2 linked regions of the Homo sapiens genome follow. The protein of the gene in region 1 purifies or fractionates together with the protein of each later gene. This does not show direct contact. Each region holds a gene or a part of one and is shown in the gene's direction. Other genes may lie near its edges.

Region 1 (3,649 bases):
CTGATTCCCATCGGTCAGTCTCCGTTTTTCAGTGCTTTTCCTAATGGTGTAACCAGGGTAGAAGCTACTTCCTGGCACCACACCAGGGACAGGGCAAGCTGGGTGTTAGGTTTTTACCACCAGCAGGCAAGCTCCTGCTGTGCCTGGCCAGCTTTTAGGCACAGGCAGGTGTCAGACAGGTTCGTCTGGACCGTGGACTTGGCAGCTGGCTCCCTTGGACATTGTGGAACGTGGAAGAGAAGCTGGAAGATTTGGGCTTTGGTCCAGAGTCCACCACTTGTTTATTGACCATAAGAAAGTTTCCGTTCCTCTTACCCTGAGTTTCTTCAGCTGGAAAATGGGAGCCATGATTTTCCCACCTAGCAGAGGGCCTTAGACAGTGAAGTGAGCTGACTAGGAAGTCCTTCCCCTGGACCTGGCTAAAAGTTCATCCACTCCATGTGGTCTCTCCCTTTCCTGAGTAGGGCTTGGTCTCCCCGTCTCGAAAGTGAAGCTAAACCTCTCAGGCTGGTGTGACACAGCATTAGAGATAAAAACCTTGTGTAACTGAAGTGCTGGACATATTTAAGGTGTGACTGTTGAGCTGTTAGCAGTCCTGCGTCCCCTGACCTGCACCGATGGGTGGCGTGGGATGTTGAAGAGCAGTTCAGCAGCAGTGGCCACCCCGCTGGGAGAAGGGGCTCCTGCCCATGACCAGGGCCCCTTGCCTTTCCCCACAGATCCTGGCTGCAGCTCTGACCGAATGTCACCGGAAATCCAGTGCCCAAGGCAAGCCTCTGGCCCTGAAGGTCTTTGTGGCTGGCAGAAACCGTCTGGAGAATGATGGCGCCACTGCCTTGGCAGAAGCTTTTAGGGTGAGTGGTTTCTGTCCATCCTGCCCCTGCAGCCTTGAGGTGCACTCGGCATAGTAGGCTGACAGTTCTGGATGCTAATCCCAGGGCTGGCACTCAACCAAGAGACCTGGGGCGTCACGTGCCCTCTCCAAGCCTGTTAACCCATCCGAAAATGAGCCAGAATTCCTGTCGTGCATTTCTGGAAAGGTGTGTGACTTTCCGGAAAGGTGTGTGACTGGCTCCCACTGGTGAGCCAGCCCCTATGGGGCTTCAGGCCAGGCAGGCCACTCTGACCAAGGAGTGTCATCTGCCAGGCTCAGAAGTGGTGAAGTGAGATGGTGCGAGTGCTGACAGTAGCCTGGCCCAGCCACTGGTGTGGGGCACAGAGAAGGAACATACCAGACCTCCAAGACAGGGAGATAGGCAGGGGCAGCCGCAGGGCTCAGGTGCCAAATGACGTGCTCTCAGGTGACCTTATCCCCACTCCTCTTCCACTCTCCTCTCCCCATCCCCGCAGGACATTGCTGAGTCCCCGATCGTGAGTGCCAGCAGAAGGCTACACTTGCCCCTAACAGGACTGAAAACTTTGGGGTCTGTCTCCCTCCTCTCTTTCCTGTTTTTTTTGAGGCAGAGTCTCATTCTGTCACCCATGCTGGAGTGCAGTGCGTGATCTTGGCTCACTGCAGTCTCCGCCTCCCAGGTTCAAGCAGTTCTGCCTCAGCCTCCCGAGTAGCTGGAATTACGGGCACCCGCCACCACACCCGGCTAATTTTTGTATTTTTATTAGAGACGGGGTTTTACCATGTTGGCCAGGTGGTCTCGAACTCCTGACCTCAAGTGATCTGCCCGCCTGGGCCTCCCAAAGTGCTGGGATTACAGGCGTGAGCCACCACGTCCGGCCCCTCTTCTCTTAATTTAAATGTTTTCTTCAGCAAACAGTATCCTAGGAGCATTGCTCATACGGGCCGGAATGTCCTGGCTGCCCATCGAGGCTGTCTGTAGATACCCTTTGCCTGCTTCAGTGCCAAGTGAACATCGCAGAGATCTGCCTTGTGTCTCCCTGCACCCCTGGCTGCAGGGGAGCTCCTGCTGCCTCCTCTGGAGCTGGTGGGGGCCTCACTGCCATCCTTGGATCCCTCCCTGCCGTCAGCCTGCTGTCCTCAGTGCACTGGGAGGAGGGGGTGCGCTGTGGTTGTGTTGAGCCTTCATAGGTGTCCTCTGGTGGGCTTAGAATGGGGGTTCTTAATCCCCCCCAGTATGTGGATAGAATTCAGGGGTCTGTGAACATGGATGAGGAAAAAATAACATTATTATTTATTACTAATGTAGCTAAAATATGTAGTGTGACCTTTGATTATAAATGTAGACAATAAACCTCACAGCATTAGAAAGGCCTGTGACTACCCACATAACAAACAAGCACATGTAGTCCCTGAACCCAAAAAAAAAAAAAATTTTATTGAGGCAGGGTCTCGCTCTGTTGCCCAGGCTGGAGTACAACGGTGCAATCTCAGCCCACTGCAGTTGAAGCTTCCCAGGCTCAAGTGATCCTCCCACCTCAGCCTCCCGATTAGCTGGGACTACAGGTGTGCACCACCATGCCCACCCAGTTAATTTTTGTATTTTAGTAGAGATGGGGTTTCACCATGTTAGCCAGGCTGGTCTCAAACTCCTGACCTCAGGTAATCCACTCGCCTTGGCCTCCTAAAGTGCTGGGATTATAGGCATAAGCCACTGCGCCCAGCTTAAAATTTTTAAAAAAATAAAAAGAAAATCTTGTGACTTTATCCCCAGTGGAAATCACAGGTATTTCATATGAAGTTATAGTTACTGCTGATATATAGAAATATTTCTCACTACATCAAAATTACAGTAATAGTGGACCCACCCCTAGATCTTGTTATTTGGTGCATTAACAAGAAGTTTGTATATCACTACAGCATGCGTTTGGAGTTTTTTCCTAAATGTTTTGATAACTGTTCCAACTGAGTTGATTTCCTTTGTAATTCTGTGTAATTTATCTTAAAATTTTAAAAAAACATTTTTTGAGGAGGGGACCCAGGGGCTTCACCAGACTGCCTGAAGGGTTCATGGCACAGAAAATACTAAGAAGGCCTGACCTGGAGTGTGCCCAGGTTGGCCTTCCTGTATTTATTTGTGGACCACCCGCTCCCCCCATTGCCCTGTGCTGCACTGAGCACCTGAAGACAGCAGAAGATTCCTTGGCACAGTTAAGCCAGGCCAACCCTCAGTCCTGGGTCACAGTGGAGACTGGGACATGGCCCTCTCCTCCAAAGCTCAGGGGCCGATGGGATGCAGACGGAATATAGGCTTTGAATGTAGGCAGGATGAGGACCACCGTGATAGAGGAGGGACCAGGTGCTCCGGGAGCACAGAGGAACGCACACTGGATCGTGGCTGGGGGAATCCAGGAAGCCTTCCTGGGAGAGGAGGTGACCAAAACAAGAGCCCTAGAACTCATATGAGTTAGCCTGTCAAGAAAATGCTGAATGGCTGGGTGTGGTATCTCACGTCTGTAATCCCAGCACTTTGAGAGGCCGAGGAAGCTGGATCGCCTGAGGTCAGGAGTTCAAGACCAGCCTGGCCAACATGGTGAAACCTCCATCTCTACTAAAAATACAAAATTAGTCGGGTGTGGTGGCGCACGCCTGTAATCTCAGCTACTCAGGAGGCTGAGGCAGGAGAATCACTTGAACCTGGGAGGCAGAGGTTGCGATGAGCCAAGATCATGCCATCACACTCCAGCCTGGGCGACGGAACGAGACTCCGTCTCAAAAAAGGAAAAAAAAAGAAAA
Region 2 (3,649 bases), on another chromosome or scaffold:
GAGAGGCTCTGTCTGAGTGCAGCTCAGGGTCGGTGGGCAGCAGGCCTGCCTGGTGGTGTCTGTCTCTGGAGAGTGACTTGGTCTATCTTTTGTTTCTGAAAAGCAAGATATCTGGGTAGTACTGGGTTGAGAGTGTGATTAACCAAGGAGTAATCTGAGGCTTGACTTTGTTTGCTTAGAGCGGGGTGTGTGTTTGTCTGTGTCTGGTGTATGTCTGAGGGGTTGTGCAGGCCCAGTGTGATGTGTGGGGTGAGGCTGTCTCCGGGTGGGGCTGAGGAGCTGTCCAGTCGGGGGTCCTGTGTCTGAGGGGCAGGCTCTCTGTGTGGGTATAGGTAGGCATCGTGTGTCTTGAGGGCGGGCTGGGGTAAAGGTTGTCCAGGTTGGTGTCCTGTGTCTGGGGTCAGCTGTTTCTGGGGCAGTCTGAGGGGTCGTCCAGGTGGACTAAGGTAGTCTGGGGTGGGTGGTAAGAGCCTGAAGTGGGGTTTTTGAGAACATGCGTAGATTCTGAAGACAGGAGGGGCAGGCAGGTTGTGGTGGTCTCCCTTCACCTGTTTGTTGTCCCCACACCCAATCCCCCAGGACATGTTGGAGTTCCCAGCCCAGGAACTTAGAAAATACTTCAAGATGGGGGACCACGTGAAGGTGATTGCTGGCCGATTCGAGGGCGACACAGGCCTCATTGTGCGGGTGGAGGAGAATTTCGTTATCCTGTTCTCTGACCTCACCATGCATGAGGTAGGTGGATAGAAGGGTCGGGGAAGGGTGCACGTGCCAAGAGGAGACCCAGGTAGGCGAGCCACCTGGACTGGGCCTCACCCCTTTCACCATCCCTGGCAGCTGAAGGTGCTCCCCCGGGACCTGCAGCTCTGCTCAGAGACAGCATCAGGTGTGGATGTTGGGGGCCAGCATGAATGGGGCGAGCTGGTGCAGCTGGATCCCCAGACTGTGGGTGTCATCGTGCGACTAGAACGGGAGACCTTCCAGGTGTGTGTGTTGTGCTCTGTGGCGGGGACTTGCTTTTAGGAGGCTTCCTGTCCCTCAACCCCTCATCCTGGGAGGTGGCAGAGCCCCCAGACTGCTCTGGGTTGCAGATCTGGCTCTGTCACTTACATCTGAATGGCTGATAGTGGGCACATGGCAAGTCATTGATCCCTCCCCTTGCCTGTTTTCACACCCTATAAAATGGAAACGAGAGCAGCGTCTACTTTGTTCATAGTGAATGATTCCCTGAGGTTAGATCTGTACCCTGGTGGCTGTTGCTCGCTCAAGGATGGAGTGCCACATGTGCCCTCCTGCCTTTGCTCCTTCCTCATGGATGTGGGAGTCATGGAGCACAGTACTTAGGATCCTGGACTCCACATCCACATCTTGGCTTTGTTGCTCCTGTGCTGTCTGACCCTGGGCTAGTGACTCACCCTCTCTGAGCCTGAGTTTCCCTCTGTAAGATGGAAATCATGACAGAATCCACCTCAGAGGAAGTTTTGAGGCTTCAGTGAAATCTTACGGGGCCTGACACAGAATGATGGATGAACAATGTTGCTATCAGCCCCTTCTTCCATCTCTCAGGTCCCTGTTGCCCAATCGGGGGTGGAGTCTCCTTCCAAAGGGTGTTTTAGAATGACTGGGAACATTTTTGGTTGACCCAGTACCTAAAGGGTGGCACTCTGCCTGCCTGCCCCGCAGCCAGGGAATTGAGATGCCTTGTGGAGCTTGGGACTGTCTCCCACAAGGAAGGATTATCCCACTTTAGGGAACCCCTGCCCCGTGTCTCCCCTTCCCATTCTCACCCCCACAGCCTCCCTGCTCTCCCTCTGTAGGTGCTGAACATGTACGGGAAGGTGGTGACTGTCAGACATCAGGCTGTGACCCGGAAGAAGGACAACCGCTTTGCTGTGGCCTTGGACTCAGAGCAGAACAACATCCATGTGAAAGACATCGTTAAGGTCATTGATGGCCCCCACTCAGTGAGTACAAGTTCCTGCTTTTGAGCTGCATCTGAAAGAATTTGGTTGGTTGGGGGTGAGGGGGACATGGTCAAGAGAGTGACCCTTCTCTCCCCGGCTAGGGCCGAGAAGGGGAGATTCGCCATCTCTTCCGAAGCTTCGCCTTCCTACATTGCAAGAAACTGGTGGAGAACGGGGGCATGTTTGTCTGCAAGACCCGCCACCTGGTGCTGGCTGGGGGCTCAAAGGTGAGGTGGGCATGGCAGGACCCTGTGCGTTGGGTACCTGGCTCAGCTCTCCAAGCCTCCTCTGGCCCCAGAAGTGATAAGATTGGGCTTGTGAGGGATTAGGAGAGCAGTGTCATTGTCAGGTCCTTGGCAAAGAGTGAGAAGGTTTATTTGGGATTCTGAGCTGTTCACCAAGTTATTTTAAGTTATTTATTCATTTCATTTTACTGAGCACCTGTTAGGTGCCAGACACTGGAGAACCAGTGGTGAACAAGACAAAAATACTCTGCTCTCACAGAGCTGATACTCTAGAGGTGGACAGACAGATAAACCCATCGTACAGCTTGAGGTGATAGCAAGCGCTGTGAAGAAAACAGAATGGGCTCAGGAGACAGGGAGTGACCAGGGCTGCTGTTTTAGACAGAGGAGGGTAAAAAAGGCCTCAGTGGGAGGCAGTATTGGAGCAGAGACCTGAATGAAGGGATGGAGAGTGAGCATTTTGGGGGAACAGCAAGTGCAAAGGCCCTGAGGTGGGGCTTGTAGGAAAGTGTGCAGGACCAGCTGTCACAGAGGAATTCAGGCCTGGGGTGTGGGTGGCTGGGTGGTCTCCTCAGGGCCCTGCACGTGGGATGATGAGTTCCTGTGGTTTGTGGTTCCCCCATCCCCTGCCTGCCAGTTCACTCCTTGCTTCTATCCTAGCCCCGTGATGTGACCAACTTCACCGTGGGTGGCTTTGCGCCTATGAGTCCCCGGATCAGCAGCCCCATGCACCCCAGTGCTGGAGGTGAGAGGGGTTCAGGGTCAGGGGATGTGGTGGGTAGAAGGGGCTGGAAGGAACTTGGTTGTTCAGCCTACACTCACTGAGTGCCTGTGCTGGGCTGGGCACTGCTATTAGGGGTTCACCACCCACAGGAGGGTAGACGCCACAGTGACAGCCCAGAATGGTCAGGGCTTCCATAGGAAAGCCATGGGGCAGGGGTGGGCAGAGGAGGCTCTTAACCCAAGTAGGGAGGAGTCAAGCAAGTGAAGGGGACGTTCTGATGGTGCCCTTGCTGTGGGCACAGCCGTGGGGGACCAGTGACATTCTCCCCAATCCCCAGGTCAGCGTGGCGGCTTTGGTAGCCCAGGTGGCGGCAGTGGTGGCATGAGCAGGGGCCGGGGCCGGAGGGACAACGAACTCATCGGCCAGACCGTGCGCATCTCCCAGGGGCCCTACAAAGGTGACCTGCGAGGCCTGTGGAGGCCTGGGGAGGGGCATGGTGAAGGAGAGCCTGCCCAGCCTGACCTCCTGTCCCCCTGCAGGCTACATCGGTGTGGTGAAAGATGCCACAGAGTCCACGGCCCGTGTGGAGCTGCACTCCACCTGCCAGACCATCTCTGTGGACCGTCAGCGGCTCACCACGGTGTACGGGCGGGGCCTGGGGAGGGCCAGGGTGGGGCTTGCTAGGCAGTGAGAGGGGTCTGCTCACCCCATTTGTT

The links. The genes of interacting proteins can lie anywhere in the genome.
Region 2: the proteins of RANGAP1 (region 1) and SUPT5H fractionate together in Homo sapiens (co-fractionation; one large-scale study listed by BioGRID). This does not show direct contact.

What each region holds. Positions count from the first base shown.
Region 1 is NC_000022.11:41,258,651-41,262,299, reverse strand, and holds part of RANGAP1 (ran GTPase-activating protein 1), read left to right. Parts: intron 1-719; coding exon 720-854; intron 855-3,649. UniProt on the Homo sapiens protein: GTPase activator for RAN. Converts cytoplasmic GTP-bound RAN to GDP-bound RAN, which is essential for RAN-mediated nuclear import and export. Mediates dissociation of cargo from nuclear export complexes containing XPO1, RAN and RANBP2 after nuclear export.
Region 2 is NC_000019.10:39,469,540-39,473,188, forward strand, and holds part of SUPT5H (transcription elongation factor SPT5), read left to right. Parts: intron 1-579; coding exon 580-735; intron 736-837; coding exon 838-984; intron 985-1,817; coding exon 1,818-1,964; intron 1,965-2,065; coding exon 2,066-2,191; intron 2,192-2,869; coding exon 2,870-2,954; intron 2,955-3,270; coding exon 3,271-3,390; intron 3,391-3,472; coding exon 3,473-3,575; intron 3,576-3,649. UniProt on the Homo sapiens protein: Component of the DRB sensitivity-inducing factor complex (DSIF complex), which regulates mRNA processing and transcription elongation by RNA polymerase II.